5 linked regions of the Homo sapiens genome follow. The protein of the gene in region 2 purifies or fractionates together with the protein of the main gene of each other region. This does not show direct contact. Each region holds a gene or a part of one and is shown on either strand. Other genes may lie near its edges.

Region 1 (6,379 bases), on a different chromosome or scaffold from region 2:
AGCAGTGAAACACACAGTAAGTAAAAATAATGGAGAACATTTCTTCACTAGAAGATAAAGTCATCTTATGTCCATAGAACATTTACAAAAATTGACCAAGATCTTGGTCACAGACAAAAACTTTAAGAATAGGAGGTTTTACAGGCCACATTTTCTAACTGTGACACAAAACATTAGAAATAATGAAATGTAGCTAACTTTTGACTCAGCTTTTTCAGAGCCAAAATACTCTCAGAAGTTCAATAATATATAAAAGCATTACTGCAGCAGTTTGTAAGTACAATGGCAAAAAGAAAAGAAGTTAAAGAAAAAGCGTCAAGAAAAGAAAAAGCAAGTAACATAAATATCCATCAATAAGAGACTGTATAAGTTAATTATGAAAAGAACCTTGCTATTAACAGGAAGGAAAACATTTTTCTTACCTTAATGTCAGCCAGAGATGCCATTGCCCACGCTATTGTAGATCGCAGTCCAGCTGTCTTGATGTAAGCTCTGCTGGCTAGGGAAACCCTACAAAGGATAGAATCTGATTATATATTATTACACATTGAACAACAAGATATAAAAATGATTTACCTGTCCAAATCTGAGAATCATTTAAACATATTCATCCAACATACACTAAAGTATTCCCTAAGTTAGACAATGTTTCAGTCTTATTACAAAAATTGCTTCTCTAATGGGCACCTTGTCTACCCAGCCAGTGTTGAATTTCAGAAAGGTAAATTTTTAGACAACTGAAATTTACACTCTCACGTATTTAATGTATAAAAATGTAATTACACATGAGGAAAATCTTTCTTATACTTCCCTGTCTTCCCATACAGAGTAGACCTTTTTTTGCTATTTGAAGTCATGAAGGGGAATGTACTATTTTGTGATATAAATGTAGTATGGGAAGTAGAACTGAAGGGATGCTAACCCTTAAAATCTGTTTTCTATAAAAAGTCCCTTTTGTAGGTTTGTTTTTTGGTTATTTGCATCTTTCCCAAAAGATGAAATGAAGCATGACATTGCATTGTCTAAAATAATTTACTGGATGATGGGCCAAAGCAGACATCTCCCAAATGAGTTCACTGGTCTCCAAAAAGCATCAGTTCACACTTTATCCTCCACCTCATCAATGCCACTATCACATCAATGTTTCCAGATTTGATAGAAATTTTCAAAATGTCATCTATTATTTCTGTCTTTCTAATGCAATGAACAAGCAGAATCTCCTTGGAAATTACAACTTTCCAAGCTTTTCTAGTTCACTTCTACAATTTGTTGGTAAGGTACGAAGACATGATGTCAAGAATTTGTGTGGGTTTGTCTTGGGGTTGGCTTCTTCCAAAACCAGCAAAAGAGGTCTTCTACGAACATTACGGAAAGCCATGATTTTCTTCAAACCCTCCTTAAGGTTGTTCAACAGAATTCTAGGTATGTGAATATTAAACATTTCTTTCTTTCACCATTTTGCCTCTCATCTTTCTTTGACTTTAACTTATCCTGTTTTTGTATTTATTGCAAGCCTCTTAAAATCTTAGAACTAAATGATATACCCCTTTAAAATAAAACAGTGTAATTGTATACTTGCTATTATAATGAGGAAGTTCTACATGGCAAACCCATGGGAGTTTGGCTTTTTAATAAAGTTTTTTCAAGAAACAACAATTCACATTGTAAACAGTACTGTATATATACATTTGGAATGAGGGATGTAAACTGGCAGGTAGAAACACTATAAAATATTTTGGCCAGTGAATTTTGCTTCTACGGGGTAAGCTTAGCAATTATCTTGCTATAAAACAGTTTGCACTCTAGATACCAAAGTTATAAAACACAGTTTGCATTCTAGATGCCAAAACTATAAAACAGAGTTTGCATTCTAGATACCAAAAAGGGAGACGCAGTATGGGAAACCAGCTTTGTCCATATATATGAAAAAATGCTCTTCTAAGCAGCAGGAATTTATATGGAACCTTTCAAAGTTTCAAAAACTATGTATATATTTCTGCTAATAGAAGTTTTTGTGGGACATAATTCTATTAATATTTGACAAAAGTGAATGTTCACATTTTGCTTAAACCTGGGCAAAATTATCTCATTACTTCAACAAAAGGGCCCCATTATATCAGTATAACAAAATTATTCAGAAGAAGGCACGTTCAGAAATAAACTCCTTGAAAATAAAAATAATGCTTTACTTTCAGAGAACCTAGCTAATGTACACGGTTCAAAAATAAATGTGGTTTTTGATCCTCTTCTCTGCATGTGTGCATTTTTTTTTCTCTTGTACACCTTGTACCACCAAGACAAAGACGTCCTAATCTATATCTCTAGCCTAGACTTGTTACCTGAACCCCAGATCTTTATCTTCAAATATGTGCTTGAACATTTTTATGTGGAAGATAAGTAGTGCAAAGTCAACAGGTATAAACTGAATACACTATCCTGGATTTCATATATTGATACATTTCTTCATTTTCTTGTGCCACGTACTATCCATATATTGGGTACCATACTCTACCTCTTCAGTCTACACTTGTCACCTGAACTCTAGATCTGTAACTTCAAATATCTACTTGGACATTTTTCACTGAATACACTGTTTTCTTTCCCTACATTTTGTATCTCAGTGACTAATACCAGTATTTACTAATTGTTCAAATCAGAAATCTGAAATTATTCTAGACTCCTTAACTATTTTTTGATTTCATGGCCTTTTTGTTACCTCCAAGAGTTTAAATCCTCTCCTTCTCTCTTTTTATTTCCCTTTCATTTAAAAATATAATTTTCTTGGTAATTTTTTTGAAATCACAAATCTGATCACATCACTCTTCTGCTTCAAATTCTTATTGCTTTAAGGATAACATCCAAGCTGTTTAACATATTTACAAGGCACTTCATGGCTTGTTTCTAATTTTCTACCACTTTCTCTATGTCCCATTTATACTGAAACTACCTGCCATCCCCCATGTAAATCAAACTTCCTTATACATACTTAAACAAGGCACTTCATGGCTTGTTTCTAATTTTCTACCACTTTCTCTATGTCCCAACTACACTGAAACTACCTGCCATCCTCCATGTAAATCAAGCTTCCTTATACCTTGTGCCTTTGCACAGAGATTCCTTGCCTGTAATACCCTTTCCTTCTCTTCTCCATGCGGCATACACTTTCTTATTGCTTTCAAGTCTCCTCTTAGGGACAATCCTTTATCTTTCTGCTCACAGGTCCGTAATTAGAGTTAGTTTCTCTTTCCTAACTCTAATCAAGCATTTATCACAGATCTGTGCTAACACTGGATTGAACTGTTTCAAAAGTTGAAATTTATTCAATGCTTACTGTATCCTAGAAACAGCAGGAAAGATTTTCACGTGGGTTATCTCATTTAATCCCAAGGACGAAGCTATAAAGTAGGTACTATTATTTTCCTGATTTTATAGCAGAGAAATATGATAACTTGCCCAAACTTGCAGAGTTATAATAATTTGTGGAGAAGATAGAATTCAAGTCCACAGTTCTTATCTGCTATGCTATACTGTAGTAGGTGATGTGTACAGAGTGGCAACAGCTATATACAGTTAATGCTTCATGGGGCTATTGATATCCAAATGGTTTTTTCCTTTAAAGAAAGTAAAACTCAAATATGAACAATGTCTTTAGGAACTTAGGACAAATTTTTATGTGATCCTTTAACTTCATGGTGCTCTCTACTTTGTTTCATCATTTCAGACTTTCTTCTGTTGTTAGGGTCACCAGGTTGCAGTTTCTGTTATCCACTGTCACTTCTCTTGTCCAGTGCTATCTGTTGTGCAAGTCTTCATGTCTCCCTTTTCATGTCCCGGTAAATTGTTCTTTTTAGCCAACACTCATCACTGAGACTGCTTCCTTCCTACACTGAGGTAGTCAAACTGACTAAACACAGAGCATCTGTTGTAACCTCATTTTCAACTAGTGCTCATTCAAGGTCTCAGTCTTAATTTTCAGATACATATCTTTTATTTGTAAACTTCAAGGTACACTATCAATTATTATTTGAAATGCCATGGCATGACGTCTTGAATGTTTCTAGCAAGCATTAAAATAATTTTAAATAATCAAATACCTTTTAAAAAACATTAATATAAAGTTATATTAGTTAAATAAGAAGCACAAAATTAAGCATTTTTATATATAATAATTTAAAAATGAGTTATTTTATTTGGTGGTAAGAATCTAATTAATACCACACTCAGCACTGCTACGGGTGAGATACTCTTCCTAAATTTTTTTGTTTTTTTGAGACAGAGTCTCACTCTGTCACCCACGCTGGAGTGCAATGGCATGATTCTGGCTCATGGCCACCTCCGCCTCCTGGGTTCAAGTGATTCTCCTGCCTCAGCCTCCTGAGTAGCTGGAATTACAGGTGCCTGCTACCATACCCAGTTAATTTTTGTATTTTTGGTAGAGACGGGACTTCACCATGTTGGTCAGGCTGGTCTTGAACTTCTGACCTCGTGATCTGCCTGCCTCGGCGTCCCAAAGTGCTGGGATTACAGGTGTGAGCCACCGCGCCCGGTCCCTAAGTAAATTTTTTAGATACTTAGGCTCACTTTTTGGGGGTCAAAGTATTAAAAAAAAAATTAACTACTTTATAAATTTAAAAAAATATACATTTTATATTTTGCTTGTTTTGCTAGTGTTTCCTACTTTTGTCTTGGTGATCATCAATAATTATACTTAATATAATTGCTAAAATATGTCCATCTTTTCGTTTTCTCCACCCTTTCTGTCTTTAAAATTGTCAAAGAATTTAAAAAAACCATATAGGCAAAACTGTTCAAATTAAAGGCACTGGAGTAGGGCAGCCTAGAAGCCTTTTAGGTATAGGTATAGGGCTGTGAAAACCATTTAATAATAGAACTAGATATAATTTTCAGTATTAATCATGTAATCAGTAGATTACCATGACCAAATATTTCCCAGCTCTAACTGGTCAGTTCAAATCATATCCACTAAGTTCCGTGAAAATACTTTATTGTCTTAAGCAAAGAATTCAAATGCTTTGCCTTTAGCCTTCTCTGTTATATGAATGCTTCATTCATGCTGTAAATAAAAAACACAAGTTCTTAATTTAACCATCTGTCTTATGGGACAAACCGGAAGCTTAGAATATCTACCTGAACACAGGAATCCCCACCACAGAGTAAATGTCATTTAGATGTATAAAGATCTGAAAGAACAAACACAGAAGTTAGAATGGAACAAGAAACTTCATTACCAAATTACTGACAATTTGAAATTTCCATTTTAAACTTACATGATCTATGTTTTAAAAAGAAACTCCAAGGCCTTATTCATCATATCTAGAAAAATGTTCTATAATCTTTTTTTTTCTTAAGCAGAAGGAAACTAAATTTTAAGTACATTTCATAGAAAAATTCTGAGGTCAATTTATTATATAGGAGAGTCATGTTACAAAGAACTCAAAACCAACTTTCTTCCTAGAGATTCTAGGAATTATCATAAGTGGACCACGCTTTTCAGTATTTTGCGTTGAGAAGATTTTCTAAATCCACCCTCATTTTAACCTCAAATAGGATGCGAGGCCACACAGGACTATCAGAGGCTGCAAATACTTTCAGGGTAACAGAAAACTTTGTTTAGGCCAAATATATGGCAGCAAGGGTGCTGTTTTCTCTATAAGTTTCTGTCTTTCTTTATTTTCTTTCTTCTGTTAGGCCATGAAGAGTATTTAAGCGCCCCACATTATAATTAGTAGCCAACATAAATTTTAAAAGCTAGAATCTTACTTTTGTAGCCTGATAAGGTTTACAGAATATTTTAAATGCTGTTATGAACCTCAAGAATATCTGGTCCCTGATACTCGCACCCCAAGATAACTTTAAATATTAACAGCTTAATCAGAATTATTCCAATATTGATCAATTTCATCAAGAAAAGACTTACCTGGAGTGATTCCATTTGGTCAATTTAATTACCTGATTAACTGATACATCACAGCTAAACTTCCCAATTTTACATATTATGCATTTTAGCAAAACTATTTATTAGAATTGTTTTCTATTGACAATTTATTCTAAAGATACGACATGTTCATATATCAAATGTTATTAAGAATAGCCTCTCCCACTATAAATGTTTTCCTATCAATTTTGCAGAAGGAAATTTGTTGAGATTTGATTCCTCTGTCAATTTTTTAGTCACAAATTTTACTACGTGTGATTTTTGTGTTGCCAATTTTGTGTTAATTATTTGTATCCATAATAGCTATTATTAATTGCATTAAATGGCTGATAGGAATTGAATTTGCTATATTTATTTATGAGATAATCTATGAGAAAAACAATTCTGAGACAATGAGATGGACTCAGGGAGATGGGGACGAGA
Region 2 (6,379 bases):
GAGGCAGGTCCAGGGCCTTTGCTGACCCTCGGGGCTCCTTCACCCCTGCCCCGAGCCTTCCCCTCTTGCCTGGGCGACTTCCATGCACCCTGGGCTCCCATCAACCCTTACCTGCAGCTGCTCGCTCATGTCAGGTCTGTTCTCTGTGTGAATACGTTGGTCAGAATTCATTGCGCTGTCACTTAAAGTTTATACTTTTTTTTTTTTGAGATGGAGTCTCGCTCTTGTTGTCCAGGCTGGAGTGCGATGGCGCGATCTCGGCTCACCGCAACCTCCTCCTCCCGGGTTCAAGCAATTCTCTTGCCTCAGCCTCCTGAGTAGCTGGGATTACAGGCATGCGTCACCACACCTGGCTAATTTTGTATTTTCAGTAGAGACGGGGTTTCTCCATGTTGGTCAGGCTGGTCTCGAACTCCCAACCTCAGGTGATCTGCCCACCTTGGCCTCCCAAAGCACTGGGATTACAGGCGTGAGCCACCGCGCCCGGCTGGTTCTGGTGATTCTTGTGCCTCAGCCTCCCCAGTAGCTGGGATTACAGGCGTGTGCCACCACACCTGGCTAATTTTTGTATTTTTAGTAGAGACGAAGTTTCGCCATGTTGGCCAGGAAGGATGATCTCAAACTCCTGACCTCATGTGATCCACTTGCTTTGGCCTCCCAAAGTGCTGGGATTACAGGGGTGATCCACCCCACTGGGCCTATTTATACATTTTGAGCAGGGTGTGGTGGCTCACACCTGTAATCCTAACACTTTGGGAGGTTAAGGCAGGAGGATCACTTCAGGCCAGGAGTTTGAGGCCAGCCTGGGCAATAGAGTGAGACCCCATCCCTATTTAAAAAAAAGATTTGTGTCTGGGCCTGGTGGTTCACGCCTGTAATCCCAGCACTTTGGGAGGCCGAGGTGGGCGGATCACCTGAGGTCAGGAATTCAAGACCAGCCTGGCCAACATGGTGAAACCCCGTCTGTACAAAAATCCAATAATTAGCTGGGCATAATGGCGAGTGCCTGTAATCCCAGCTACTCGGGAGGCTGAGGTGGGAGAATTGCGTTAACCTGGGAGGCAGAGGTTGTAGAGGTTGTAGTGAGCCGAGATGGTGCCGCGCTGCAGCCTGGTTGACAGAACAAGACTCCAGCTCAAAAAAAAAAAAAAAAAAAAATTTGTTCATTTTATGGTGATTAAATTATGCCCCACAGTATTGTTTGCATTAGGGACAAAACCTTCTGCCCCATTTCGCTCCCTTCCATGACCCTTTTTTTTTTTTTTTTTTTTTTGAGACAGAGTCTCACTCTGTTGCCCAGGCTGGAGTGCAGTGGTGCCATCTAGCCTCACTGCAACCTCCATCTCCTAGGTTCAAGTGACTCCTGCCTCAGTCTCCCCCGTAGTTGGGATTACAGGCGTGTGCCACCATGCCCAGCTAATTTTTGTATTTTTAGTAGAGTCGGGGTTTTACCATGTTGACCAGGCTGGTCTCGAACTCCTGACTTCAGGTGATCCGCCCGCTGCAGCCTCCCAAAGTGCTGGGATTACAGGTGTGAGCCACCGTGACTGGCCATGACACATATTTTGGTAGTAAACTCCTGATGAGCAAACTTATTTTTATTTTTTTTACAAGTTTATTTTGTTTATATAGTTTTGTTACTTTTTTCTTTTTTTAATTCTGGCTCTCTCCAGAAAACAGAAACCTATTTTTCTTTAACCACAGTATCTAGAATACTATCTGCTATGTAGCAGAGTCTCAAATATTTGAATAGAATTACATTTTTATAAATTTTTGTATTATATTTCTTATGTGATAAGACTTGACAACACTGCAAATATGTTTTGTTACTGGTCTTTAAACTTGCTCATCCTCTCTCTCTCTCTGTCTCTCTCTCACACACACACACACGCACACATACACAATTTGCAAGGTAAAACGTGTCAATTTGAAGAAAGAGGAACTAACTGAATCACTGTTATGTAGAACAGATTTTGCCAGAATTTGTGGTTAGCAAGAAAGTGATGTGTTCCGGGTAGGGGAATTCTGTTTTGGTATTATTTTGTCTTTCCTGAGAAAAGCATCACAAAAAGAGATGTTTGCCCATCCTGTTTGCTGGGGTAGTGGGAAGAGACCGGGGGTGATGGTGGTGCTGGCTGGACGTGGGTGGTTTCACAGGACCTGCTGTGTCTGAGAGGAGCCATGCGGTGATTAGAAGCTTGGAGGCTGCAGGTAGGAGGCACAGAGCCCGAGAGTGCATGGAGAGCCTGGCTGTCGGTCTCCAGCATTGTCACTGTCACCTTTTTTTTTTTTTTTTTTTTTTTTGGAGACAAAGTTTTTGCTCTTGTTGCCCAGGCTGGAGTGCAATGGTGCGATCTCGGCACACTGCACCCTCCGCCTCCCGGGTTCAAGCGAGTCTTCTGCCTCAGCCTCCCGAGTAGCTGGGATTACACGTGTCCACCACCGCACCTGGCTAATTTTTGTATTTTTAGTAGAGATGGGGTTTCACCATGTTGGCCAGGCTGGTCTCGAACTTGGAACCTCAGTGATCCCCCCGCCTTGGCTTCCCAAAGTGCTGGGATTACAGGCGTGAGCCACTGCACCTGGTCCATTGTCATCCTCTGAGAAACTGGAGCGCGGCCACGCTCTGCATATTTCTACTATAGAATCACCAAAAAAAAAAAAATCACATAACCAGACTTAAAGGGCAGAAGTGCTTTGTGAGAAGTGTTTTTGGGAAAATATTGGCATTAAAATATCAGGTAGGGTCCCTTTTGGGAGGACTGAGGAGGGGTGTGTGTTCAGCTCCGGGAGGATCTGGTCTGCCCTTCCTGCTGTTTTCTGTTGACTGGGTGGGAGGAGGCACTTTGCTGTTTCTGTTGTGTGTAGCAGGGGTTTAATGGGGGTCTTTTTAGCTCCCTATAAGCATTTTGAAGTTTGTGTGTTATGGAAATCTGAAGTGAAATTACACAAAGTTTGATTAACCCCAGGAAGTACTGTAGGGGCCGGAGAAACTCAGGTTAGGTAATATCTTTCAAGAAGCCCAGTTACGTTATTTTCCAGGAATCTTCCAAAACCTGATTTGTGCGGGTGTCCACCAGGAGCCTGATGAGTGAGTTGTCATCAGACCCAGTAATGCGCTGTTGTTGTGTGAATTGGTGCTTTCAGAAAATTTTGTTATACAAGTGATACAACCACAATCGCAAAAATTTCATAGACAAATCACCTGTAGTTCCACCCCTTTTAACAGCCGTTGCATTTTAATATATTTCCTTTTTTCCTGTGCATTGCTTTGTATGTAGTTATCATCATAGTGAATATGCGTCTTTATAGTTAGTTCCTTTCACTTGACATTTTTCTACACTGCTAGTTTTCGTAATTTTCTACCTAGTGTCTGTATAATAGTGCATTAAGGAATATAAAGTTGTGCTTCGAAAGTGCTAATATGATAAAATTTCAGTTAAAAAAAATTTCAGTTAGAGATATTCTTGCCACATGTTTTCCAGAAAATGATTTGTTAAATGGAATCCATATTAAAATTTGTCCCGGAGGCTGGGCACGGTGGCTCACGCCTGTAATCCCAGCACTTTGGGAGGCTGAGGTGGCTGGATTACAGCCTGGCCAACATGGTGAAACCCCGTCTCTACTAAAAAAAAATACAAAAATTAGCCAGGCTTGGTGGCATGCGCCTGTAATCCCAGCTACTCGGGAGCCTGAGGAAGGAGAATTGCTCGAGGTTGCAGTGAGCTGAGATCGCGCCACTGCACTCCAGCCTGGGCGACAGAACAAGACTGTCTCAAAAACAAAAAACAAACAAAAAAATGACTTGTCCCGGGTTGGGCACAGTGGCTCATGCCTGTAATCCCAATGCTTTGGGAGACCCTACAGAGCCTGATAAGGGATAAGACTGAATGAAAATCGAGGAAGATGCCGTACCAATTAGGCTGGTAGTTCCCTCTGGCGGGAAGAAGGCACCCAGATCTGTCAGGGATGCAACCAGAAGGAGCGTTTCCAGGGTGCCGCTGTCTTTATTTTTTATTTTGTAGAGACAGGGACTCACTACGTTGCTGAGGCTGTTCTTGAACTCCTGGGCTCAAGCAGTTCTCCTGCTTCGGCCTCCCAAAGTGCTGGGATTACTGGTGTGAGCCACCGTGCCTAGTCTGGCTGTCTTTAATTCTTGGCCTGGATGGTGGTTACACGTGTTTGGTAAATAATTTTGTTCGAGTGTTCATAGAAGTTTTATAGTCCTTTCTGTGCATGTGTAAAGTATTTAATAATACAAAATAATACAATACAGGCCGGGCATGGTGGCTCACGCCTGTAATCCCAGCACTTAGGGAGGCCGAGGCAGGCGGATCACCTGAGGTCAGGAGTTCGAGACCAGCATGACCAACATGGTGAAACCTCCTCTCTAATAAAAGTATAAACATTAGCCAGGTGTGGTGGCGGGTGCCTGTAATCCCAGCTACTTGGGAGGCTGAGACAGGAGAATCACTTGAACCCAGGAGGCAGAGGTTGCAGTGAGCTGAGATTGCACCACTGCACTCAAGCCTGGGCAACAGAGCAAGACTTTATCTCAAAAACAAACAAACAAACAAAAATACAAAATGTTGGGGGAAAACCTGAGGTTCCTAAGATAATTTTGTAGGACTATCTGGACTGACTGCCTTGGTATTCATGCCCCAAGTCCCGTTGGATTTACCCAGAGGGAGGTGCCTTTAGGGTGAAATCCGTTTTCTTGCCTCAGTGTCTGCTCCTAACAGAGGGCACTGCGGTTGATCAGCAGAAGAGCTCCCCTGCCTCCAGCTGTTTCTGAGGCCTGAGTGCTGCTGGCTCAGCCCGGTGCTCTGTTGAGTCCAGCTGTTTCGGTGACCCACCGGCAGCACAGCAGGAAGGAGCACCCAGACCCTCCGGCGTCTGCAGGAACAGCAAGGCTTGTCTGGGAACCTCACTCTCAGCCAAAAGCCAAAAGCAGCTCTCTGGCCAAAGCTGTCAAGGAGAGTCAGATGATATTCATTACTGGGCACAGTTCATTATCTTCAGGACCGAAATTTCACCTCCCAGCTCCTGAGAAATTCCAGTCCAGGCTGGGGGTGGACCTGTCTTTCAAGAACCGGCCACTTAGTGCCCGTGTTTTGCACCAAAAGGAGATTTGAAATTGCATTTTCAGCTCTTCAGAGTCTGGGGAGTGTCTCTGTGTGTGCAGTTTCTTATCTCAGGACGGCATGTGCACGGTTAGCCTTCCTTCCTTGGCTAGATAGGAAAGGAGGGACACTCCTGGAAGCTTCTGCGAAGTTTAAAGTGACCCTGTGTTATGTGCAAATGGGCGTGCTTCCCTCCAAGGTGGGCTACTCAGTGAGGGGACCGTATTCCCATCTGCCCCTGTCCTTGGGGAGATGGAATTTTTTTTTTTTTTGAGATGGAGTCTCGCTCTGTCGCCCAGGCTGGAGTACAGTGGGGCAATCTCCGCTCGCTGCAAGCTCCGCCTCCCGGGTTCACGCCATTCTCCTGCCTCAGCCTCCCGAGTAGCTGGGACTACAGGCGCCCGCCACCACGCCTGGCTAATTTTTTGTATTTTTAGTGGAGATGGGGTTTCACCCTGTTAGCCAGGATGGTCTCTATCTCCTGACCTCGTGATCTGCCCACCTTGGCCTCCCAAAGTGCTGGGATTCCAGGCGTGAGCTGCCGTGCCCGGCCGGGGAGATGGATTTATGTGTAGTCGGTCCTTCTTTGCAGAGCAGGGGTGGGAGAATGAGTCCCACTGATCCCCAACTCTCTTTTTTTTTTTTTTTTGAGACGGAGTCTCGCTCTGTCGTCCAGGCTGGAGTGCAGTGGCACAGTCTCGGCTCACTGCAAGCTCCGCCTCCTGGATTCATGCCATTCTCCTGCCTCAGCCTCCCGAGTAGCTGGGACTACAGGCGCCCGCCACCACGCCTGGCTAATTTTTTTGTATTTTTTTTTTTTAAGTTTTTATTTTTTTTTATTTTTTATTTATTATTATTATTTTTTTAATTGATCATTCTTGTGTTTCTCGCAGAGGGGGATTTGGCAGGGTCATAGGACAATAGTGGAGGGAAGGTCGGCAGATAAACACGTGAACAAAGGTCTCTGGTTTTCCTAGGCAGAGGACCCTGCGGCCTTCCACAGTGTTTGTGTCCCTGGGTACTTGAGATTAGGGAGTGGTGATGACTCTTAACGAGCATGCTGCCTTCAGGATCTGTTTAACAAAGCATATCTTGCACCGCCCTTAATCCATTTAACCCTGAGTGGACACAGCACATGTTTCAGAGAGCACAGGGTTGGTGGTAAGGTCACAGATCAACAGGATCCCAAGGCAGAAGAATTTTTCTTAGTACAGAACAAAATGAAAAGTCTCCCATGTCTACTTCTTTCTACACAG
Region 3 (6,379 bases), on a different chromosome or scaffold from region 2:
TCCTGCATAGAATTAAGACAATGTATCGCTTCTGAATTTTCTAGTGGAAAAAAAAAAAGGACATATATAAAATGCTTGGAATACTGCCTATCACGTAGTAAGTACTCAATAAAGAGTAGCCACACCCACTCCCCTAACCTGCTTGTCATCCAAGTCAAGGGTCAGCAAACATTTTCTTTAAGGGCCAGACAGTAAGCATTTTAGGCTTTGCAGGTCAAGAGGGAAAATTGAGGTTATTATGTAGGGACTTATACAACCATTAAACACAGAATCATTTAAAAATACAAAAACCATTCTTAGCTCAAGCACTGTAACAAACAGGCGCCTGGGTGAATCTGGCCCGTGGGCTGTAGTCTGCAGACCCCGCTCCAGGCCATCTCCAGGCATCTCTATTGGTGACCCAGAGACTCTAATCTGCAGGCCATTTTGTACTTCTCCCTATCCCTTACCCTACTCTGCAGGCAAGCAGCCCCTTCTGTGTTCTCCTCCCACCGCCACGGACACTGCCCCCAATAAGATGTTATCACGTCTTGTCTGAATTACTGAATTACTCTCCATTTCACTTAACCCCCAACCACGTTCTACACCTGCCACCAGGACCTGTCCATCTTAAGTGCAGGCCTGGCCATGTCGGCACCCCATTTGATCTTCCGTGTTTCCGCTATCACCTCCAACAGCAGCTGTAAACCCAGCAGCACATCAAAAGCATGTGAGGAGCTTTTCAAAGAACACCAATGTCTAGGCAGCACAGACATTCCGATTCACATCCAGGGTGGGGCCCCATTTTCTGCTGTATCCCCTCAGCGGCTGGTTCTGAGAGGCAGCCAAGACGGATCCCATATGGTTCGGCCCAGACTGCCCTTCCCCGACTCTGCCGGCTTGGCAAACTTCCACTTGTTTTCAAAACTCTTCTTAGACTGAGACTGGCAGAAGCCACCTCTGAACCTTCCTATCCACTGCCCATAATTACTCCTCCTTCTGTCCTACTTCACATCATGGTGCATGTCCACGACTGTGTGTCATACGGTACAGTGACAGCTCCTCACTTCAGTTCCCTTCACTGACCTGAGCACCGGGTACCTTGCTTATCAATTACTGTATGCTTATCAAACCTATCCTAAAGCATTTCAAGATCAGGAGTGCGCTTTCCACCTACACTCCTCCAAAAGTCACACTGTGACCATGTTTCAAAGGGGGAATTCAAATGCTGCCCACTCAAGCCTCTAACACAAACTGACAATTCCTCTCTATCACCTGGACTCCCATGCACTGTCTTATTCGCAGTACTAAGTTAAATCTACCTTTTATTTCAGTCCTCTGTGCACACATTCTACCTCTCTCAAGGAACTGAGTGGGCCTTCCATGAGGGCAAGTACCTACTGCTCTACACATGAGCTCAGTGCTCCGTGTGTATCCAAGTCAAGCAACAAGGTGAATGTATTCTCTGGATCTTGTGCTCTGAATTAAGCAAACGAGACCCCAGTAAACATGTTATAACTAAAACTTACTAATGAGGAAAATGTGTGTGTGTGTGTGTGTGTGTGTGTATGTGCGTGTATGCATGCGTAAGTTTAAACACCAAGAATCAATATAAAGTGAAATCATGAGGTATACAATATTAATTCTCTGGCACTTTAAGCATTTTCAAACTTCCCCTCCCCTCCCCAATGAATTATGTAAAGTCATTTCATAAACACAAAACTCTAAGACTTTTAAATCACTCACATGTTAATGACTTCATCCATAAAATACATCTAGATTCTATCTTTATTTCCTGTACACTTTAGACTGTTATCCATCATCATATAAATGGAAAAACAAAAACATCTTATAAATCTATTTCAAGATCAACCAAGTAGCTACTGAGTGCCTACTTCATTAATTCAGCAAGCATTCATTAAGTACTTGCTATGCATGTATAAAACAGTAGTTAACAGCTATACAACACAGGAACATAAAAACATAACCCACACACTAATAACTGAGCACCGCACAGACAATTATTCACAAAAGGACTACAATCCAAGGGGGATACTCCAAGGAAGGGGACTAGACCTGAAGCTAGAAAGTGCTTGTGTTGGGGTGGGGAGACATGGAGCAGAATGCATGAGCCTGATCTACCTAAAAGGAGAAAACTCAATTCCTGATTGCTGCTCCCCACCCCTGTTCTGACAATTCTTATTGTAGGCCAGGCCAAACAGGCCAAAATTACAGTCACCCTTGATGACTCCCCTTTCTCTTGCATGTCACATCCTTCACAATCCCATCTCTCAGGAAAACCTGTTGATTCTACCTCCAAAATATAGCTGGAGGGGGACCCCCCCCCCCGGCTCCCCGACCACCACCTCTGTTGTCTCCACTCTGGTCCAGGCCACCAGCATCTCTCACCTGGATTACTGGAGTATTTCCTACTAGCTCCCTGCTTCCATCCACCTTTGACTGCCACACGCCATTCTATTCTCATTGCTCTGGACTAAGTCTGTTAATATGTCCAGTTGGATGTCATACCTTGGCTCAAAATCCTGTAATTGCTTCCATCTGACTCGGGCTTTCATTCCAAGTCCTAACAGTGACCTGCAAAGCCTTGCAAATCTGACTTTCCATGACCTCATCTCCTAGGATCCTCTTAACTTCAACCACCTGGCCTTGCTGTTCCTCAACCTGCCTGGCACATGTCCACCCCAGGGCCTTACTTTAGCTAAACCCTCTGCCTGAAAAGCTCTCCCCCGAGATACCTGCTTGGACGACTCTCCTGACTCCAGAGTGATTCAGGTCTCTGCTTAAATCTCACTTTCTCAATGAGACCTACTTTGAGCACTCTTACTAGTACTTCATCCTGCCTCCCATGCCCTCTTTCCCTGCTCTACTGTTTTCTCCTAGCACATACCAAACTCCAACATACATCAAAACTTACCTCCTGTGTTTGTTTTTCATTGAGTGTCTCCACCCTGCTAGACTGCAAGCTCCACAAGGGTGGGGATCTTTGTTTTGGCCACTGATGCAACACTAGCATCTTGAATAGTGCCTGGACGATGATGGGTACATACGTATTTGTTGAATAAAATCTAGTTTATCTTTTAGAGGGTCCTATGAATAAATCTAATGATTTTATCTCCCCTTCCTTCACTGTCCCCTTACCTGCTAAATAACAATTTATTTAGCAGAAGAGGAAAGTCAAATCACAGTGACAGATAAGTCATAAGAAAAGGTACAGAAATGACAAGTGAACTAAAACTCATTCAAATTAAAGTTTAATCAAGCTATAAGATCAATATCAGAGGCTGGGCACGGTGGCTCACACCTGTAATCCCAGCACTTTGGAAGGCCAAGGTGGGTAGATTGCTTGAGGTCAGGAGTTCAAGACCAGCCTGGCCAATATAGTGAAACCCCGTCTCTACTAAAAAAAATAAAAAAGTTAGCCAAGCATGGTGGCACATGCCTGTAATCCCAGTTACTCGGGCGGCTGAGGCAGGAGAATCATTTGAACTCGCGAGGCAGAGGTTGCAGTGAGCCGAGATCGCATCACTGCACTGCAGCCTAGGTGACAGAGCAAGACTCCATCTTTAAAAAACTGTCATAATTTATCTCTTTGGTAGTCCTATTAATTTGGGTCAGAGAGAAGTCGCTCCAGCTGTCTACCATACCACAGCTTCAGAACACCCGGGAACCCTCACCAGGCAGCAGCAGGCCAGGTATTAATCACTTTTACATTCGAAGTTCCTAGTGAGGTAAGCCTGCAATGCGTGATTGCTGATCTGAACTAAACGTGCATAAATGTTCTTTCACATCAACTGATAAGGGCTTTTCATGCTCCCGTAAAACAGTCACATAAGTAGACAGAGAACACTATTAAAATCAGCCTGAAACAATGTCTAAAAGTTTCCTGGATACTTAAGACTACTCTTATTTTTTTAAAAAAGTCAACTAACAAAATAGTACCTAGGAAATAATGAACCTCACTTTTACAGATGAGGAAACTGAAGCTCAGAAACATTAAGTGATCTGCACCAGAACACGTGATTTGGGTTAGAGGGGAGCCAGGAGGAGACAGTTTACATACACTCTTCAATGTGAACAACAACAAACGATTGACTCCAAACAACATCTACATTTATCCCAGTTGCCATTACTTCCGGTGTGCAATACAGGGCGAACTGATTAAAGCAGATATTTAATTGCTAGACTGAAGACTCCTTGAGCTTTTGTACTTTTGCCTACAATTCTGGTGGCAATAGGTTGCCAGGAGGGATGATAAGATTACTGGAATTGTCCTTCAAAGGAGAGCGCCCTTAATTTTTTTTTTTTTTTTAAAGAGACAAGGTCTCACTGTGTTGCTCTGGCTGGATTTGAACTCTTGGGCTCAAGTGATTCTCCTCCCTCAGCCTCTCAAGTAGCTGGTATTAAAGCCATGTGCCACCATGCCTGGTTGTCATCTCCTTTTAAATTCACCCATCTATTTTTCAAAAATAAACATTTAGTGACTAGCTACTATGAACTATAACATTTAATTCTCATGCTGACCTCGTGAGGAAGTGCCCCCACTTGGCCAAAGATAAGTGAGCGTTACGCAGGTTAAAATAGCTTGTCCAAAACTCCTCCATGCCCACACACTGGCCCTCCAGAGCCCATGCTGGTCCCGACAGGCCAGCTCCCACTGCGATGAGGCTCTGCACCCACGGCTTCTTGGCTTGGCATGCTGCCCCTTCACTGGCACAGCTTCCTCAGCAGACCCAGCTCAGTCCCACCCCTTGGTGCAACTCCTGGGGCAGACTGGCCCATCCACCAGGCTCTCAGAATCCTGGCACAAGGAACTGCCGAGGCTGGCTGACCTGTCTCTGTAGCTAGTCAAATAACTCACTTAAGACCAGAGGCCTACCCAGCCCTCCTGCAGACACCGGCAGAGCGGCCAGATTCTAGTCTGTGTTGTATAAATATGAGACATGATACACGTCTGCCTTCCGGATATAATCTTGTCAAACAGAGCTCAGCATTACTCTGCCACTTTATAATCCTTTAGTTAATGATACAGAGCTTCAAAAATATATGGCAAATTAAATCTAACTTGATATTTAAACTTTGATTTAAAAATACATGGGGTAATACAATAATAGTTTTTTATTCAGCCCAAAGAGAAGGAACATATTAAATAGTTCAAGGGAAGTGTTTGTAAGTGAATCACAGAACTTCTCACTTGTTTGGGTTCTGGCATTATGCTTAGAAGTCCTAAGATGGCCAGACAGGACAACATTGCTGAACAAGGAAACCTCATAGGCTCCCTGAGTTACTGGGAGGAGGGTGGGAGTGCAGGTCCTCTGCCTCCCTTCGGTCCCACTGTGGTCGGCATGACTCTGAAGGCTATGTGGCTCAAAAAAGAAGTCTGAGAAACCCCTGACGGTGTGGTATGAGCGGTGCCCACACCCAGTTTCGTGCCCAAGACTGTCCTTGGGCAGTCACATTTATATTTTAACCAAGGAACTGAGTCGTGTATTTCGAAAGCACCAACGGTCACCTTATTTTCACTAAGAAAACACAAACTGGGGCAAAGGGTAAGCCCCAGACCTGTTCTCTTTTTAGAGACATGAGGTCTTTTTAGAGAACAGCTGGGGGTAAATGCAGGGGAGAGGAGAAATGGGTTCAACTAAAGATGGAGTGAAAACAAAAAGAATGAACAGCCTCAATTTCTAGCCCAGAGGTTTCAAAAATAAGGATGAATTTGCAAACAGCCCCAACTTCTTAGAGCTTTTCTCTGTATTCCTGGCACCACCCTTTCAGGGCTATTTTTAGCTACAGGAGAATGGGGAGCAGACAGGGAAGGGTCTCCGTGTGGCCCAGCCTTACCTTGTGTGCCCTGCTGGGACTCCAGCTATCTTTAATTAATGTCTGAAGGACATCAGGCCAACTCTACTAGTGGTAAAAGGAAGCACAATGGTGAAATTCTACCCAGCAAGACTGACAGGCCCACTACTGGTATACCATTCCTGAGGTCCTGGGGCTTTTATTGAAAAAAGGCTCCATCTGGAACATTTAGAGAGCGATGAAGTAGAGTCTGTATATTTAAGAGTACAGAAAACAGGACTGCCTATTTACTTATCTAGTCCTGCCTCCCTGCTTCACACAGCCCAAATCGACAAATCAATTTAACACTATTTTACACCTTTTCTCTAGAAGAAAGACATTTCACTTAAAGGAACTCCCTCTAGCCATTTTTATTTAGTCCAAATTCCTAAACAAGGATGAAACCAGTATTTCTCATAATCTTTTACAGTCTTCCTTTTAGCAATAGTCGCAAGAGGTAAACCTAAATCTTTTAAACCTCAACTTGCTGCCACCTAGATTTAGCTTTATTAAATATTAGAGATTGATCATATCTTTGGAAACA
Region 4 (6,379 bases), on a different chromosome or scaffold from region 2:
AAGGCTGCTTTGAAGTACAATACAGAAGAAGGGAAAAAGTACAAAAGAAATCCACTAACAGTTCTAGGGCATAATCGAGTACATAATTACCGCATTTGAGAGGCTGTAACTCCCCAAGTTCACAGATAATGTGATAAGACCATTTGTGATTACCACTTATGGTCAAGAATATGATTAAAACAGAATAATACTTTTACTGCATTTCAGGGATTTACTGATATCCAGTTTTCTCTGGTGATTGAGCCAGTAGTAAAATAAATAAAACCAACTTCCTTTACTTCCCCTCCCTCCCTCCCTTCCTTTTCTTTCTTTCTTTCTTTCTTTTTTTTTTTTTGACGGAGTCTCGCTCTGTCGCCCAGGGCAGAGTACAGTGGCACGATCTTGGCTCACTGCAACCTCCGCCTCCTGGGTTCAAGTGATTCTTCTGTCTCAGCCTCCCGAGTACCTGGGACTACAGGTGAGCACCACCATGCCCAACTAATTTTTGTGTTTATAGTAGAGACGGGGTTTCACCATACTGGCCAGGCTGGTCTTGAACTCCTGACCTCATGATCCTCCCGCCTCAGCCTCCCAAAGTGCTGGAATTACAGGTGTGAACCATCACGCCCGGCCCTCCTTTACTTCTTTGTTTATATTAGCTGGCATTGACTTTGACAGGTGGGCAGGTGGTAGTTTGTGAGACCGAGACATGGCTCCTTGGATACCACTTTATTGGGCAGTGAGCTCAGCTCTTCATGCAGGGGCTTGGGGGCTCCTTTCTGTAATTCTAAAGCTTCTCCTGCATCTGAGAATGACATCTGTTGGGCTTCTTGGGGCCTCTGGTAGATATTTCCTTACAAGGAATGCATGCTGGATCTGAAGAGGTAGTTTAAAATGGCATATTAAAGGCAGAACGTTTAGTCTAAGCCTGTTAATCACTGCATTCCTGTGCTCCCCAGAGTCTGAAAATGTCAGGAATTGAAAGACTAGTATGAATTTGGAGGTCTTGGCCTCTACTTGAGTAAGTATAGTACCTCCATTAATGTTCTTAGTCCATGGTGTGGGGTTATCACCAAAGGCAAATACTGCTATGGATGTAAACAGGAATTTTTCCACTTAGTAACCTCCATTTTCAGCTAGCCCTGTTAACATCCTTGGCTTCTGGACTGTAGGAAAACAGTTCCATTTATTTCATCCTTTCCTCTGGAATGTTCTTAATTTGATGTTGGCAGATCCTGACCTCACTCCCTGCTTACTGCACAGGGGCTGGCTTGGCTTATGCAGCAGGCCTCCCAGGGGACGTTTCCAAGCCAATCAGAATGCCCTCTTTTAGTGTCTCTCTTTATACCTTCGGATACTGTCTGAATCAGTAGAAATGCTGAATGAACCCTAGGTGGGGTGGAAGGGTAAGAGAGAGTATGCTTGCACTCTGATTTTGTTTCCTATGGACCTAACTCCAAGTTTTTAAACTAAGCCTGGATTTTTTTTTTTTTTAACTCTTTCTGCCATTTCCACCTTGTCTTATGGAAGTGTAACCTCAAGCAAATTATGGGCAATTAGAGGTAGGCATCAACTTTAGTTCCTGGGCAGTTCCTAAGAGTGTTGGTTGAGGCCTGGCTTTCACCCTAGTGTTTAGTTTAATTCATCAGGGTACATTTCTCATTCTTCTGAGCTGGCTTCTAGAAGCCAGGCAATTCAACTGTATGGAGCCTGTCAAATACCATAGCTTTTCAGATTTTTCTAGGTAATGGATCTATGGGGTTATGGAGGGCACAGTCCCTCCATTAGCTGGCAGTGAGTTGGGTTGCTGGTATTGTTGGTCCCACTTCTGAGCTGACCCACAAAGTATTAATATCTCACTGTGGTGTGAAGTACAGACTGTCTTGTTCTCCTGAGGGTCTGCATTCAGGAAGAGGCTGCCTAACGCTAAACAACTGGGTTGTTTGTTTGCCATAGGCCCAGGGAAGAATAGGAGGTGGAGAAAGTCTAATCGAACCCAGGATAGAATCCTGTGTGAGAGAGAAATTTGCTACTCTTTCAGTTGAAATTTGAACTCTGAATCCCAAGAGAAGGCACCAGTAGGTCATTTAATACTTCTTGTTGAGGCTTGCAAAAGACACTGCATTTCTAACAAAGCGTTTGCCCATCCAAAAGAGAGATCCTGATTTGGCATATAAAACTACTGCCTCTTCTGGTTATCTTTCATCACTTGCCTGAGTTTAAAAAGGTAATAAATGGTTTGTGTTCTAAGGAAAGAGGCTCTTCCCAAGACCTGAGGCTTTCTCATTCCTACCAGCTGGGCCCATTGCTAAAATGCTTTCCAGTGGGCTTGCTTCTGCCTGGCCAGCACCTGGGCTGCCCCAGCTTGTAATTAGCCTGCCTTTGCTTCATAAGCTTCCCAGGGTGTGGTTCTTCTTCTAAAAGCTTGTATGAATTGCTGTACTGTCTCTTTATAGTTTAAAAATGAATCCTTTTTTGTTCTTTGCAACTCATTTGCTTTTTTCTTTTCTTTTCTTTAAATTACTATTAACACCTGTTGATTCTTTTTTTTTTTTCTGATTGGCCTGTCACTGCATTCCTGCTCCCCCTCCCTCTAGCTGGGTTTGTCAAGTCGCCCATGTCAGAAACTAAGCTCACGGGGGACGCCTTTGAGCTGTACTGTGACGTGGTCGGGAGCCCCACGCCAGAGATCCAGTGGTGGTACGCAGAAGTCAACCGGGCAGAGTCTTTCAGACAGCTGTGGGACGGTGCTCGGAAGCGCCGTGTCACCGTAAACACCGCCTACGGGTCAAACGGCGTGAGTGTGCTGAGAATAACCCGGCTCACCTTGGAGGACTCTGGGACTTACGAGTGCAGGGCCAGCAACGACCCCAAGAGGAATGACTTGAGGCAAAACCCCTCCATAACATGGATTCGAGCCCAGGCCACCATAAGCGTCCTTCAGAGTGAGTCCAGCACCCTACAGTAGTAGTACTGTAGTCATTAGAGGTGGCCCAATGACCCTTCCCTTCTGCATCCTTTCCCTCTTCCCCAGTATGATCACTCACCCCACCCCTTGTCTTCGTTTTTTTTTCAATCCCATGACCCTTCTGGTTGTAGTGTATGAAAACATCTGTGGCAACTTTTTTTCTTCTTTTCTTTGCCGTTCTCTCTGCCTCCCTTATCCCCCAACCCTTCTCTGTGTCTTTCTTCTCAGGAACAAAGAACTTGAGGAAATCCGTGACTGTCCAAAATCATCTGTGTTGGGAAGAGTTGGGGAGGGAGAACTGGGAAGCTTAAATTAAAACTCATAAAACCAGGCAGTCCAAGGAGGGTAGTGTTGAAATGGTTTTCCCTCCCCTTTGATTTTGTAGTAGGTTTCCTGCTATACTTTTGCTGATTTCTTCTCTGGTGCCTTTCTATTTTTGTTTCTCTCCCCAGTCTAACTACTTTTTATTTCTTCTGTTCTTCTGTTTGAAGCTCTCTAAGTAGCTGCCTTCACCTCTATGGTTTTAAGTTTGTGTCTGCCCAGCCTCTTCCTTTAACTGTGACTTGGTGTCATCTTGTTGTGATGGGAATGTTGCCATGGGTGCAGTGTGGTGGTGTGTTTTGGTTGTTGGGTGGCATGTAAGCTTGGATATTTTCATAGTTCCAGCTCTTTTTCTTTTCTAAAACCGTGGCATGTGCTTCTCTGATAACAGCCCTCTACTGCAGCAGTGTACTCCTCACTGGGCCTGCTAATTAGTCTCCTCTTTAAAAGCAGCAGCCTGGGACTTCCTTCTTATGTTTTGCTGTTAGGAGCCAGGTGACACTAAGCTGCAAATTATTATTTTTTTAGCCCATCACACTGTTTGGAAGTCAGAGTTGCAGTTGATTCCTGTTCACGGTTTGACTCTGATGAGTAGCTGTTGGCACAGTGTACCTTATCCCAGAGCATGGGAACTCCAGACATAGTGTGGGGACCACTCACACTGGCCTTTTCTTTGTGTCTTGAAAAAAGAGGAAACTAACTTCCAACCTGGTTTCTCATAGTGATGGGGTGAGCTGACCAGCTGGCTCAGAATCCTCTCCTTGTAGCAGGTATGCGTGAGACATATGACACCGGGACTTTTGTGGCCACTTCTCTCTCTTTCTTGAAAGTGACTTGCTACCTTATGTTGAGAAGCAGAGAGAGGGAGAAGCCACCACAGAACCAACGTTCCTGGCCAAGAAGAGTTCTGGCCCCACATCAAACCTGGTTATAATTGAGGGGACATTCACTTTTGGAAAGATCCTCTGGGTTTTTCACCTTCTCTTTGAGGACACAATGAGAGATCTATAGCCAGTTCCAGCTTAAAGAGCTGATTGATCTAGAGAAAGTAAGAATAGTAAAATCTTACTTTGATGAGGAATTTGGTAATAACATAAAGTAGTAAGACATGGGCCTTGAGTCTATATACTTAGATGGAAAATAGCAAATTAGTGTCTGTTCTTTGTAGCCACTTGAAGATCCTATGGGTAAAAAAAGAGTCCTTTGTAGGGCAGTGGTAGGAGAGGCTGCTGCAGTTGGCACTGTTGAATCAAAGAACCTGCTTCTGGAAAGAGGAAAAGAAAACCTTGTCTATGTGAAAATGGGGAACATTAACCCAGTGATTTTTTTTTTAACAATATTTTTACCCTGCACGCCTCCTTCTCCTGCCCCCTTGCTCCTTTCCTTATAAAAGCAGAATTACCTACATGGCCACAAAGGTCTGTGGAAGTTTATAGGTATGGACTGGGCTGGGCATTTGCACTTATACTTCCAAGAGCCTGACTCATAGCTAGAATGGCCATGCCAAGGGGCTAGAAAAAGATGAGGCATTGGGGTACCTACCTACCAATCCCGAGAATACATAGCATTCCCCAGTTTACTTAGAATTGTCTGCATGTGGTTGAATCAAATCCAAATCCTGGCTAGACTCTCTTCAGACTTCCCCATCAGTCAGTTAACCCAAGTTAGCTGTTTTGGAGAGCCAGGAGGTTGTTGCTGCTGCTGCTGCTTTTTTTTTTTTTTTTTTAAAACACCCTGGATCCAACTCTAATTGGACTGTTTTATGATCTCAGCGTCCCAAAAGACATTGCTCTATGGGGACATCAGGTGTTCTATCTAAGAATGACCTCCTGGTAGTACTTTCCCCAAAGCTCATTGAGTATGTAAGGCAAGAAGAGAAGTGTGCCCAGTTTTTAGGTATCTCTCTGGCCATAGCATGTTCTTTATATATGCATGATGGCTGGGGTAAGGGTCTCCTATCCACTGCTTTTAAATAGACATCAGTGGCAGGTAAACACATTTGAACTTCTCCTAAATGTTCATCTCTCTTGGACTTTGGGCAGCGCTTGGCCACAAAAATAAAAGCCCCACCTTCATCCTGGTGCAGAATGCAGTTGAGGCACCATGGCCAAGGAACTTGGTGTAGCACTGTTTTTCATATACAGCAATCACAGGAGGCAGGTTACCCTACCCCACAACCCTCCTATGGTGCAGAATCATATTTAAACCTATTTAAATTATCCACTTGCTCCCAGTGACTCTCTCCTGGATCTTTAACACTTAAGGGAAAAAGTGCTTTCCTTTGCCTTCAAAGAATACTTGGCAGAAAGTCTACCAGGTTGCTTTCATCAACTTCTTAATCTCCCTGAGCTGCAGTGGTCATTTGCATCGCCACAGGTAAGAGTAGCATTTACTTTGGCCTCCTTGTATTTAAACATCTGGAAGCTCTTGGCCTCATTCTCAGAGTTTACCCTTTCTCAGTGCAGTCTGAGAGGAATACCCAGAACGAGAGTCCCAAGTGGGACAGAAAATGAAATTGGATAATAAAAATTAAGTAAAAACCTAAAAGTGTGTTTGGGTTTTAATGTTGCCTTTATATTTTTTTAATTTCTCTTCTGTGGAGTACTGGTTCTATCTTTTTCTCTTTTGTTTTTGCTTGGTTTTGATTTTTCTTGGAATTGTGATGCTTTCTGCTGATGGTGTGTGTGCGCCTTCCATTGCAGGGTTTGCAGCCGTTCTGCTCGACTTCTTAAGGCCCAGGGATTTGGCTTCTGTCCAGTGTGTCTTGGAAACCATGGGACACCACTGCGCTAACGTGTTTACATGCATCTGCTTCTGTCTTAGTGGCTGCTATGCCTCCATTATCTGTACATAGAGACCCTGTTTGATGTTACTGATAAGGACCAGTGCTGAATGGAAGATAACCGTTATCCTTTTGCCAGAGTTGGAAAATAGAACTAATTTGTTAATTGAGCAAACTTAAGGTTTTGCATTATTACAAGTTTCTTCAAAGACATTAACTCTACAAGTCAGAAATGTTACATCGGTTAGGAGGTCCTTAAGACATTACATTTCCCAAGTATCCCACGACTTCCCCATGCTTTCCCCCTCCCTGAACAGCAAGCAACTTAG
Region 5 (6,379 bases), on a different chromosome or scaffold from region 2:
CCATGGGGAAGAGGCTTGTTTAAAACCAGTGAGCTCTTTCCCCTGTTAAATACTCCAACGGCTTTGAGGCTGTAGCCACACCAGGCTCATGTTTGGGACTTCAAAAACATTATCTTCCATTTTGTGACTTGTGAAATTTAGTCTATTCTCATGGTGAGTAATCCACTTTAGAAATTATCTAGAGCAAAATTGTAATCCCCAACTGTTTTGTCCAGCTACCGAGCAAATTTGAAAATGATTTTCTAGTGCTGCCTGGTAATATGGAAGGACAAACAAATTTTTTTTTCTTTTTTTTTGAGATAGAGTCTTGCTCTGTCACCCAGGCTGGAGTGCAGCAGTGTGATCTTGGCTCACTGCAACCTCCACCTCCTGGGTTCAAGCAATTCACATGTCTCAGTCTCCTCAGTAGCTGGGATTACAGGCGTGCACCACTATGCCTGGCTATTTTTTGTATTTTTTGGTAGAGACGAGGTTTCACCATGTTGGCCAAGCTGGTGTCGAACTCCTGACCTCAGGTGATCTGCCCACCTCGGCCTCCCAAAGTGCTGGGATTACAGGCGTGAGCCACCGCCCTCAGCGAGCAAATAAATTTTCATATTGTGATCCTGATTTGTAATTTGTCTCATAATTTCCAAGCCCAGTAGATATGAATTTGGGGACTGGGCAGCTCTTCTGGACACTCCAAGATTCTGCTTCCCACCGCAGTTCAGATGGATTCAGAGAAGGGACAAATGTGCATTCCATTTGCCTTTAATTGTCTTCAAGGAGTTAACTTGTGAGCCATTGCAAACAGTCTTTTGATGTAAACTGTGCCAATCACATCCTCCATGAGCAAGATGTATGACTCAAGTCTTCAGTGTTGTAAACAAATGTGTTTAAAGGCTTTTTAAAATTGGTTAATATGTTTCTGATTAAAGAGTAGTTAAAAATATGGAGCATCAGAGCTTGCAGAGACTTTTCCTGAAAGCTTTTGGGCCAGTCCTAGCATTTTATAGGCAAAGGAGTTTGCAGTTCAGGAGGAGAAAGCATTTACCACAACAGTGGCAGGACTGTAGCCACATGTTCCGACTGTCCCATTTCAAGCTTTGTTCTTCCCCGCTTCCTGTTCTTCCCACCTGCTTACAATTATACAGCTTGTACCTTTAGCTACTAGAAATAAAGAATGCAGCTCAAAATCTGTCTTTCTTGCACTGACTTGGGCTCTTCCTGGTTGTACCAGGCAGAACTGCTGGAGACCCAGTGAGTTGCTGATTTTGCTACTTTTAATCAATGAGCAGAGAGTTTAGAAAAGATCAGCCTGATTCCTGTGGACATGGAACCTCCCTGGTCCCTGAAATATTCAGTCTTTTTCCAGTCCCTGATGTGAACTGGTCCAGCCTCGTGCATCCCTAAAGATGTGTGGGGAAAGCTTCCTGTAGTCAGGCTGGGCAGAGCTATTCTTTTCCAAAGCTGCTTGTTTTAACTGAAGTGGGACCCACTCTGAATCGAGACATTCTACACCACACCACACCATAACTGGAATCCTCTATTCACAGTCGTGATGGTGCCATGTGTGTGGCTTTTGTGGGTAGGAGTCACAAAATGTAGGCCGCCTGTTTATTTATTTATTTATTTAGACAGGGTCTTGCTCTATTGCCCAGGCTGGAGTGCAGTGGGGCTATCTCGGCTCACTGCAACCTCTACCTCCCAGGTTCAAGCAATTCTCCTGCCTCAGCCTCCTGAGTAGCTGAGACTACATGCCACCATGCCTGGCTAATTTTTTTTGTATTTTAGTAGAGATGGGGTTTCAGCATTTGGCCAGGCTGATCTCGAACTCCTGACCTCAAGTGATCCTCCTGCCTCAGCCTCTCAAAGTGCTGGGATTACAGGCGTGAGCCACCATGCCCGGCCCTGTCTGTTTTTTTTAAATATTCGATAAGTTCTCACACCAAACCCTGAAAATATAGAGTAACAATTCTTGGGTTCATTTAACTGCTAATAGGATGCACATTCTTCCTGTTTCATTTGTTATTCAGATCCTGTATTTCTGCTGAAAATATATGACCAGTTAGGTGGCAAAAACCTTTGATTTGGGTGTGTGTAGTGATGACCTGGCCAATAGCACACTTTCCAAGAAAGCCTGAGGTTGCTGGATTGACCTGATTTCCATGTTGGAACCTCTTGCCTCCTATTTTATAATTTTGGCTGAACTATTCATTTCATGATTGCAGTTGTGTGCAGGTGGTACCAGAAATTATACTAGTGATACTTGGTCATCATTTGGTCTAAGAAGCAAATTTTAGATATATATGTCCATAAGAGGAAAGTTCCAGGCACATGAACAATGGGACAACACGTTTACATTTCTCTCTTCCCTCAGTCAGGTAACGATATGGCATTGTGGTCTTGCTTAGCATAAGGTTGAAATAATAGTTGCATCTTCAGAACCAAAAGATATTCCACACCAAACGACTGGCTTGGGAAAGAGTTAACTTCATTGCTGGGGACCGTTTCCCTTGCTTCCTTCTTAGCTTGTCATTGTCTCAGTGATCTGCTTTTTATCAAGCCAGCGTCAATGGCTTAATTTATTTCCATAGTTACTTAGTATATTTGAAAGCAGTTCTTTTTGCTTGCAAATCTTAGCTAACATCTGAACGACAAGGAGGAAGCCACAGGGCATGAAATCTCTACGAAATCTACCATGGTTTTATTTTATTTTTTTGCTAGCTTCAGCCAGTGGGTCTGAAGTGGGCTGTGTAGGAACAAGCAGTGACCTTTTCAGCTTCTCTATGGACAGGGAAACCGGCTGTTCTGAGAAGAGATCTCCCATCCTGCATGTGGTTAGGATGGTAGGGAGGGCTTGATGAGTCTTTGCTTCTGAAATCAGAGGAAACTGGCTGTGGAATTAGAACATTCCTAGGAGAAGCAAAAGCTCTGTTAAGCTATGTGTCAGAGAACAGGGCTCACGCCCAGGAAAGTGAGAAGTCCGTGCCCCCTGGAATTCTCTGGTAGCTGAAAAAGACAAGCAGAACCTAAGAATTTTGACAAGCGGAATCGAAGAATTTTATTTACTAAATGATTGACAAACCTCCTACTATATCCAGGCAAATTGAAAATATCATTCCATTTACTGACATTCATTTACTGCACACCTTTTAGGAGTGTGTAGGGATCACTGGAAGGGAGCTGTTGTCTCTCGTTGCATCTGGTGATAGTTTGCACCCTTCGGGGCTCTGTAGTCTGTATGCTTCTTGTAATTTACCACGGTAGAGGAAACTGTGGTTTTAGCAATCATGAGAAGAGAGCTTCCATTAGTCTCTATGGCAAGGATAAGCTAATTATTAACACTAGAGAAGTATTGTCTTCATTGACCATTTAGGGACAGATGGGGTTTCTCCAATGACTAAGTATATATAATTAACATAACTTTTATTGTTTTACATGTTTTTCTAGGGATTCATTATGTGATTTTTAGTCTTACTCAAATTGGATTAACTGCTTCGTGATGCTCTGTAGAGGATGACCGTGGGCCAGTATGACATTTGGCTAAAGGTTTGCTGAATCAGATCTGGCTCTGCTTAGCAATACTTTAATTGAGAAGGCCCTGAATTGAGACAAGGGGGGCAACTCAGACACAGATTGTGACTAATGTCAGTTGAGTTTCTGTCTGTTTAGGAGATACTGTGGGGAAGCAGAAAGGGTTTGGTCCTTCTGCCCACCACTCAATGACTAGGGACGCTGGACGACTCTCCTTCTATGGTGGGTGCCCGAGGGGCCAGAAGAGTTTGAGAACGGAGACCCAGGAGCTTCCCAGGGAGTCTTCTTTGCCTTGAAGCCGAGCTCTGGGGAAAAATGATGCCCAGCGCTTACCACTGAGCAGCCCATGCAGTGGCTTGGCCTGTGTTGAAAGTGCAGGCACAGGTGTGTCCGGTACTGAGGAGGCGGCAACATGAGCCTGGTTGTATCTGAAGCCATTGGCTTGCTCTGCAGCCATGGGTGAGCCACTCTGTCTCTGAACCTCAGCTTTCTCATCTAAGGTGAGGGTTTGGACTGGCTAGCCCTTGAGTTTCCTTCTAGCTGTGATATTCGTTTATTCCATACGTGCATTGTTAAAATCCCAAAGAAAATTAAAAAGAAAAACAGTAGCTGCAGTGTTTCTAAAGAAAACACAGTACCTCAAATGGTAAAAAGAACCCTCTGTAGGCACAAACGCTGTGGTTTTCAGTGAAACTGTGCACTCTCCATCCCATGTGCTCCAGCGTCCCCACCCAGGTGCACATCAGCAGGGCCTAGCACATGTTAACACACTCAGGGTATGCCCGTAGCCTTGAATTTGGGGCAAGTAATTCACCTCCCCGAGCCTCAGTGTTGATCCTCTGAAAAATGGATAAAACCAGCTACCCTCCCTTGGAATCTCAGGCCACCCAGCATGCTGGTTCCCTGCCTACAGTCGTGGGAATGTCTGAGTCTTCAGGTAGGGAGGGACCTCAGTGGCTTCCAGCCCACCACAGCTGTGCCCTGATGGGTTACCTGGAATACTGGCTGGACTGAACAGTGGGCACAGTATGGCTGGTGGTTTGGGGGCCACAGACAAGGGTTGCCACATTTTATTGAGTTTTGTCCTGAAACCACCCAGTGTTTCTGCCTACAGTCTGGGAAAGGGCCACAGATGTCTTATTTGCCTTCAGGGATGTCCCTGCAGCCTGAAGGGTTCCATATTAGAGCCTTATAAATAGCCAAAATGAAGAACTGGTGAAACAAGAGTGAAGCCCCTAATTCCAATAGCTTTGATACGTATTGGTACTTCAACAACTAGATTTTCCAAATATATATTGAACAGAGGGAGAAGCCTGTGTTTATTCCAGGACAGCCCGGAAGATTGTCATATGCCCGTTCTTTCATGGGACAAACTGTAGTTGCTGAAAATAAATTGCCTGTGAGTTCTCCTCTCTGAGCCTCCTGGACGTTTCCTGATTCAGTATCCTGCAGTGCCGTGTGAGCCCCCGGTGTTGGGTTTCTTTTGTCCACATGAATAAGGGGTACAGAGAATCAGCTCTGGGTGGGCTGAGACAGAAGAAGCTGTCACCCGATGGCCATCTGAACTGCAGGTCAGAATCCTGGCATCTTCTCTGGTTTACCCAATTTGCTTGGGGCCCCACTTTGTGAATTACAAGCTCATCTCTGTTCACAGCAGGGGAATCTTTGCATGGTTTGTGGGAGGGGACTGACTGTCTGGGAATCTGTCATGCTTGTGAGTTACTCTCTGTATTTTTGGTATTTGGTTTCTGGATACAGGTGAAGCAGTTAAAAAATATTTGAATATGGTCAAGAGAACTTTTGGAAAGATTCTATTTAAAGCTATATATGCCGTTTGGGTACTGGCGGAGGTGGTAAAATTTACAAGGAAAAGCCATGTGGGAATGGCCCAGGCGAAATTAGTCTGATGACATCTGATAAGTAATGACAGATATCATGCCTCAGTTTCCTCATCTGTAACATAGGGAGGTGAAATAGGGCCCTTATTAAATCATGACTAAATCTGGTGGGTGTAAATGCTTGGAGAACTGAGTGTAAACTTTAAATGAAGGCGCTATGATTATTTTTTATTTATTTATTTACTTTTGAGACAGAATCTCGCTCTGTCACCCAGGCTGGAGTGCAGTGGCATGATCTCAGCGCACTACATCCTCTGCCTTCTAGGTTTAAGCAATTCTCGTGCCTCAGCCTCCCAAGTAGTTGGGATTACAGGTGTGCACTACTATGCCTGACTCATTTTTTGTATTTTTTTTTTTTTTTTTTTTTTTTTTTTTAGTACAGACAGGGTTTTGCCATGTTGCCCAGGCTGGTCTTGAACTCCTGAGCTCAGGTGATCCGCCCACCTCGGCCTCCCAAAGTGCCAGGATTACAGGCATGAGCCATCATGCTCAGCCGATTACAATTTTTTATTAAAGCCTGGAATGGAAGAACCCTTCCAGGCTGTTGCCAGAGCTCAGGATGCTTGGCCCTTCTGCCTTCCTGGATTCATTTCATTCCTCTCCAGGTTCCTGAGGGTCCAGAGCTAGAGACAGAAGAGACTTAGAGATGTTTCAGGCTCTTCTGGGTTGGAGCAAACCTTCAATTGGGCAAGAGCTCAGCCACTGTTGGCTTCCTCTCAAGGCAGAGGGGCTGGGAAGCTGCCTGTACCCTCATGCCCCACCCACAGAGCAGGGACCCAGCTGTCTACTTAATCCAGCAGAAACAGAGGACAAAGAAGAAAGAGAATGAGGGAGGAGATGACATTTCTTAGGCACCTTCTATGCTCTAGGCACTGGTGTTAACAGTTTAACATCCATATCTCTTTCTGTACTCCAGTCCTGGGAGGTGGGCGGTGGTCTCTCCGAGGGACTGAGAGGAGACCTCC

The links.
Region 1: the proteins of SNX8 (region 2) and THUMPD2 fractionate together in Homo sapiens (co-fractionation; one large-scale study listed by BioGRID). This does not show direct contact.
Region 3: the proteins of SNX8 (region 2) and SNX18 purify together in Homo sapiens (pull-down; one study listed by IntAct). This does not show direct contact.
Region 4: the proteins of SNX8 (region 2) and NPTN purify together in Homo sapiens (co-immunoprecipitation; one large-scale study listed by IntAct). This does not show direct contact.
Region 5: the proteins of SNX8 (region 2) and SLC18A2 purify together in Homo sapiens (co-immunoprecipitation; one large-scale study listed by IntAct). This does not show direct contact.

The regions. Positions count from the first base shown.
Region 1 is NC_000002.12:39,760,909-39,767,287, forward strand, and holds part of THUMPD2 (U6 snRNA (guanine-N(2))-methyltransferase THUMPD2), read right to left. Parts: intron 5,202-6,379; coding exon 5,149-5,201; intron 511-5,148; coding exon 423-510; intron 1-422. UniProt on the Homo sapiens protein: Catalytic subunit of the THUMPD2-TRM112 methyltransferase complex, that specifically mediates the S-adenosyl-L-methionine-dependent N(2)-methylation of guanosine nucleotides, most probably at position 72 (m2G72), in the U6snRNA of the major spliceosome.
Region 2 is NC_000007.14:2,303,560-2,309,938, reverse strand, and holds part of SNX8 (sorting nexin-8), read left to right. Parts: exon of another isoform or gene 1-82; coding exon of another isoform or gene 83-134; intron 135-6,379. UniProt on the Homo sapiens protein: May be involved in several stages of intracellular trafficking. May play a role in intracellular protein transport from early endosomes to the trans-Golgi network.
Region 3 is NC_000005.10:54,523,308-54,529,686, reverse strand, and holds part of SNX18 (sorting nexin-18), read right to left. Parts: intron 1-6,379.
Region 4 is NC_000015.10:73,593,567-73,599,945, reverse strand, and holds part of NPTN (neuroplastin isoform b precursor), read left to right. Parts: intron 1-2,576; coding exon 2,577-2,924; intron 2,925-6,379. UniProt on the Homo sapiens protein: Probable homophilic and heterophilic cell adhesion molecule involved in long term potentiation at hippocampal excitatory synapses through activation of p38MAPK. May also regulate neurite outgrowth by activating the FGFR1 signaling pathway.
Region 5 is NC_000010.11:117,246,375-117,252,753, forward strand, and holds part of SLC18A2 (synaptic vesicular amine transporter), read left to right. Parts: intron 1-6,379. UniProt on the Homo sapiens protein: Electrogenic antiporter that exchanges one cationic monoamine with two intravesicular protons across the membrane of secretory and synaptic vesicles.